Regions from separate parts of the Homo sapiens genome. Here region 2 is linked to region 1. The links come from fine-mapping of genetic effects on gene expression. A gene starts in region 1. The other region holds a variant in brackets. All regions are shown on one strand. Distances are between the middles of the regions. Region 1 holds the start of RANGRF (RAN guanine nucleotide release factor). Region 2 has its middle 5.2 kb from the start of PER1.

Region 1 (2,905 bases):
TGAGTCCCTCCTGCTCCCATGCACAGTTTTAAACTCCTCCCTCCAAAACCAAAGGGAATCGAGAGACCCAATTCCCAGGCGTCTGGGACCCAGGTGTCCTGTTAGATTCAAAGGCACAGAGATTATATTGATTATAAAGCAAGTTTATTCTGAAGAGGGATTGTCTTATGTTTACGCACAGGGAAGAAATAAGAGGAAACCCTCTTTTCAACCTCTTTTCCCCCTCACAGAACCGAGTCCCCAAGTTCTCAGCAACATCATGCAGTGCTTCAGCGCCTTTACTGGGGACCAAAGATGTTAGGATCGTGAAGGGTCAGACTGGTCACCAGCTGTTCAAAGTCACCCAGGCTCCAGGGTGCAGGTGACAGATTTTCGGGGCCAAGAGATGACCTGTTGTCAGGGCTTGGGGTGGGGGAACAGATGGAGACAGAACATCATCCAGGCCTGAGGTTTGGAAATTGCCAATTCCTGTTCCCCAGAGGACCTGGGTATCAGTTACCCCAAACCTCTGGCCCACTCCTGCTTCCTTGGAGGATCCCACCAGTGAGTCTCCCTGTTCTGTCCCTCCCAGCCCGATTCTCCTGGGAACCCAGTCATGAGATACCCGCCCGTTCCTTCCTCCTTACGGGGGCTGATTGAAGGTAAGCAAGAGATCAGTCTGGTACTGGGGCAGCCTCAGCAAGGCCTGATGAAGTGTCACGTCCTTTGCTACCTAAGGGGATCAGAGTCAGGATGCTTACCTGGATCTCTGCGTCCCCGCTACCGCCCTTCCAGGACATTACACACTCTCGGGCCCTCACCTGCTGGTTTTCCTTAGCTATCTGCTGCTTGCCAGAGAGGACCCAGGCTTCTTGACAGCGGCCCCTCAGGGCCAGGTTCTCCAAACTGAGAGGCTGAACAGACTCCACATGGACAGCCCTAGCCCCCTGCACGCCACCAACATCCTCAAAGTGGTACCTGGAGTAGGGAAGCGGGGTCAGGAAGGGACATCTCTGGTCGCCTCCCCGGGAGCATCTTTAAGTTGCAGGCCTGGCTCCCGGCCCGTGCGTGGTCTCACCGCCCGGATTAACCGTCGGCCGCGGGCCCCGCCCACTGGTCCGACCCCGCCCCTGCCATTGGCCAGCCGGGGGCCATTCCCTCACCGCGCAGCCGCTTCGCCCCGTACGTGGGCCTGCAGCTCGAGAAGTTCCACTATCAGGCTCTGGTCCGTCACGGGATGGCAGAAAACTTCTTGATTGTCCGGGACCGGTCGGAGGTCGCTGGAGTGAGGCGAGGCAGACCCTGGTTGACCCCGGTCTCTTCCCACAACCCACCCAGTCAGCCGCCCCTGGGCGCCCCGGCCTTCTCACCTTACGTCAATGGCCCCCATGGGGAGGATGGCGGAAAAGGCGCCCCCGAACAGCGGGCAGTCTCTCGTGGGCTCCATGGGTCTGAGGCTGGGTTATGGGCATTAGAAAGGTTTAAAAGAAGTCCACATTGGGTCACGTGGCATCGGCTCCCTGGGTTTCGCAGCTGCCACCGCCACCCGGGTCTGGCTTAGCTCCCGGATCCTTTAAGATTTGGCTCCGCCCTGCGCTCTCGTTGGCCAATCGGCGCCAAGACCCTGGGGGCGGGGGTCAGCGGCTTTGCTCCGGAAGCCGCGCTCTTAGGAGTGCGCCTGGCGGGACGGTGGGGTCTGCCTTGGGGTTGGACTTAGGGTTAGGGTCTATGTCGCCCCCGGTGGTCACGAGCATGCTCCCGCCAGCCTCCTCTTGATTGATTGATTGATTGATTGATTGACAGGTCTCGCTGTGTCGCCCAGGCTGTAATGCAGTGGCGCGATCACCGCTCACTGCAGTCTCCACCTCCAGGACTCAAGTGATACTCCTGCCTCAGCCTCTTGAGTGGCTCCTGCTCCCGCCACCACGCCCGGCTAAATTTTTAATTACTTGTAGAAATGGGGCGGGGTGGGGAGTGTCTCCCAATCTTGCCCAGGCTGGCCTCAAACTCCTGGACTCAAGCGATCCTCCCGCCTCGGCTCCCTAAGTGCTGGAATTACAGGCGAGAGCCACAGCGCCTGGCCTCCTCGTCCTTTTCAAGTGGTCACACCTTCCAAGAAGGTCGCCTGAGACCCTCCTGAGGGGCAGGTGCTCGTCAAAGGGGCCCACGTCTAGGTAGGGTCTCTTGAGTCAGGAAAGCATAGTTTCACGGTGTTCTGGGCCTCTGAAAGAAGAATGGGCTGCCACCCAGACCGCTAATTCATAGATCTGCTGCTGGGAATTAGGGGAACAATGCGTCCAGGTTAGGATTCAGGTCTCACATCTTCCTGAAAGTGAGAGCCAACCTGGGTATTAGAAATCTAATTCCTCTCAAATATTTGCCTTGGGAATGCTCCCGGGCAGGTGCAACCCCACCCCCAGCTCCACACACCTGGACAGAAGCACAGATTAAACCCTCTTTTGTTTGTCTTTTACAGATTTGTTGTGTTCTTTAAGTTTTAACTTCACTATATCATTTCAGTTCATTTCTCTATTCATCTTTGATCCTCAGCACCCGGCACGGTGTTTAGAGCATAACAGACCTGATATATATTGGGTTTTTTTGTTTTGTTTTGTTTTTGAGATGGAGTTTCACTCTTGTTGCCCAGGCTGGAGTGCAATGGCATGATCTTGGCTCACTGCAACCTCCGCCTCCTGGGTTCAAGCTGTTCTCCTGCCCCAACCTCCCAAGTAGCTGGATTACAGGCATGCACCACCACACCCAGCTAATTTTGTATTTTTAGTAGAGATGGAGTTTCTCCATGTTGGTCAGGTGAGTCTCGAACTTCCGACCTCAGATGATCCGCCTGCCTTGGCCTCCCAAAGTGCTGGGATTATTACAGGCGTGAGCCAGCGTGCCCAGCCCAGACCTAATATATATTGTTAAG
Region 2 (2,905 bases), 130 kb after region 1:
GATCGGAAGGTATACCAGGAAGGTTGAGAAGATACATTGGTAATGGACTGGACTTTGCAAGAGGCCCTGACCTTGGGCAGGGCAAAGTGTGATTCTCAAAGTGGCCACAGGGGGGCACTAGGAGTTGGTAATGGGAAGTGTCATAGCCAGCCCGTGTCTCTAAGCCCGGTGCGCCCTGTGGTCTAGGGTTCCCAGCTTTCGTTTCCCTTTACTGGGGCATGTTCCTGCTGTTGGACTCCTTTCTACTCCTCGATTTAACTTCTAGACGCTCTGCCGTGGCTCCCGTGCAGCAGTAGATGAAGTAGTTGGCCATTTCTGTGAAGCATGTCTTCCCCTCTGTGCCTAACCCAGTGCCAGCGCCCAGATGGGGTTAGTAAATTGTGGTTTAAATAGGCTCACAGAGACAAAGCTGAGTATGTTGTGGAGCTGCCTGTAGATGGCCTACTACCCCTGTACTCTGTTGTATGACTTGTGACTTTAGACCCCACACTGAACTGCCACAGCCTGTAGGTCCAGGAGGCCCCGATGTGGCATCTTAGTATCCCTGTTCCCAGGTGCTTCAACAATGAGTGGCCGGCCGCGGTGGCTCACGCCAGTAATCCCAGCCCTTTGGGAGGCCGAGGTGGGCGGATCACGAGGTCAGGAGTTCAAGACCAGCCTGGCCAACACAGTGAAACCACATCTCTACTAAAAATACACACAAAAAATTAGCCGGGGATGGTGGCGGGCACCTGTAATCCCAGCTACTCGGGAGGCTGAGGCAGAGAATTGCTTGAACCTGGGAGGTGGAGGTTGCAGTGAGCCCAGATCACCCCACTGTGCTCCAGCCTGGGTGACAGAACGAGACTGTCTCAAAAAAAAAAAATCCACTTAACACGATGTTGAACAAATGAGAGTATATTTTAGGTAGAGTGTGGTGGCTCACGCCTGTAATCTTATCACTTTGGGAGGCTGAGGCAGGCAGATCATTTGAGGTCAGGAGTTCGAGACCAGCCTTGCCAACATGGTGAAACCTCACCTCTACTAAAAATACAAAAAACTAGGCGTGGTGGCATGCGCCTGTAATCCCAGCTACTTGGGAGGCTGAGGCAGGAGAATCGCCACCGCGCGCGGCCTTTTTTTGCTTTGAGACAGTCTCACTCTGTCACCCAGGCTGGAGTGCCTTGGTGCAATCTCGGCTCACGCAACCTCCGCCTCCTGGGTTTAAGCAATCCTTGTGCCTCAGCCTCCTGAGTAGCTGGGATTACAGGTACCCACCACCATGCCCGGCTAATTTTTGTAGGGATTTTTTTTTTTTTTTTT[G/TTG]AGACAGAGTCTTGCTCTGTCGCCCAGGCTGGAGTGCAGTGGTGCGATCTCGGCTCACTGCAAGTCCCGCCTCCCGGGTTCACGCCATTCTCCTGCAGTAGCTGGAACTACAGGCGCCCGCCACCTCGCCCGGCTAATTTTTTGTATTTTTAGTAGAGACGGGGTTTCACCGTGTTAGCCAGGATGGTCTTGATCTCCTGACCTCGTGATCAGCCCGCCTCAGCCTCCCAAAGTGCTGGGAATACAGGCGTTAGCCACCGCGCCCGGCCGTCGTTTTTTTTTTTTTTTTTTTTTTTTTTTAGAAGAGACAGGGTTTTACCATGTTGGCCAGGCTGGTCTCAAACTCGTGACCTCAAGTGATCCACCCACCTCAGCCTGCCAAAGTACTGGGGTTACAGGCGTGAGCCACCGTGATTCTTATAATTAGGTACACAATCATTACCAGAATGTCCAACTTGATTGAAGTCTTACTATATGCCAGGCAGTGCTCAGGATTTCGCACTGCCAACTCAAATTCCTTCCAGGTTTAAGAGTTCCCATGGGCCCCAGGACCCGCCTGCTTTATGGTGTCGGGGACTTGGGTTCAAGTTTTCGCCTTGTTACTGACTAGCGTGTTACAGGCGAACAGATTACGTAACCCCCCTGCATCTCGGTCTCATTTGTGAGGCGGGGGGAGTATGTGAGCTGGCCTCCTCAGAGTTTGTGAGAAGCGCCTGGCCTGGCCCGCAGAAAACAATCAGGAAGAGGCTCTCTTATTTTCATCGTCACCAAGACACCGTGCTGAGATCTGAAGACCGCTTCACCCTAATACTCTCACCTTCCAGCTTCAGGGAGCCTCGGTGGGACCCAGGGCCGGAACCCCAGCGCCAGAGGCGCCCTAGTCACGCCCGGGTCTCTGTACAAAGTGCGCCTTATACGCTGCCACCGCTCACGGCTGCGCCTGCGCAGATTTAGCAGCCGTGGTTAAGAGTGTCGTCAAGGAAAATCCCCAGCTTCTGGGTAAACAAGTTGCCGCGTGAGACCGCCGGCACGTGTACCCTACAGCTCCAAGACCTCTCAGCCTATGAGAAAGCTTGGAGAGCGGGACTGGCATTTACGTCACCAATCTTGGCAGGTCGGGGGTTATTTCCCCAGCCAATAAGAACCTCAGAAGTGTCGAGGGCGTGGCTTCCGGTCAGGCTTCCAATCCCCGCGTTGGGGCGGCCCCTCTCTCACGTGTATCTCTCCCGCCCCCGTTGGCCTGCTGACCAATGAGAAGACGATGGCGGCCGGAGGTGCCAATGGAGGCTGTGCGGGGGCCGGCGGCTGCACGCGGCACGGGGCATGGGTCGGCGCCCCTAAGCCAATAAGCGTGGGGGGCGTGGCAGCCCGGCCCGTGGGCGGGTTTGGAGGAGCCAGTGTAATGCTAGAAGTCCTAGAAGAAATTTGGAGTGTGCGTGCGCGCCGAGCGGTGAGTGCTCGGGGATGGGGGAGAGATGCGGGGCGATCGGTGTGGACTTTTCCGGGGTGGTGTGGTCGGTTAGGAAGGTGTTAGAGTGTGTGTGTGTGGGATCATGCAAATACGTGATAACTGCGGTGGGAGCTCTGATGGTTGTGGAGAATA

The links.
Region 2: its variant is fine-mapped to the expression of RANGRF in whole blood (INTERVAL, PIP 0.97).

Annotation. Positions count from the first base shown.
Region 1 is chr17:8,287,310-8,290,214 of GRCh38, reverse strand. It overlaps RANGRF (RAN guanine nucleotide release factor), which reads right to left and starts at 1,545. Exons shown (of 5, transcript NM_016492.5): 1 at 1,350-1,545; 2 at 1,143-1,259; 3 at 801-957; 4 at 627-712; 5 at 128-402. The coding sequence starts at 1,426. The coding sequence ends at 279. SLC25A35 (solute carrier family 25 member 35) reads left to right here. Exons shown (of 5, transcript NM_001320870.2): 5 at 1-154. RefSeq lists enhancers at 823-892, 1,173-1,292, 1,653-1,882 and a silencer at 1,043-1,092.
Region 2 is chr17:8,156,154-8,159,058 of GRCh38, reverse strand. No RefSeq gene overlaps it. Among named protein-coding and RNA genes, the nearest start is that of PER1, 5.2 kb to the right of the region's middle. RefSeq lists silencers at 4-53, 2,524-2,783 and enhancers at 174-413, 1,964-2,023. The variant G/TTG (reference allele first, on the strand shown) is at 1,303.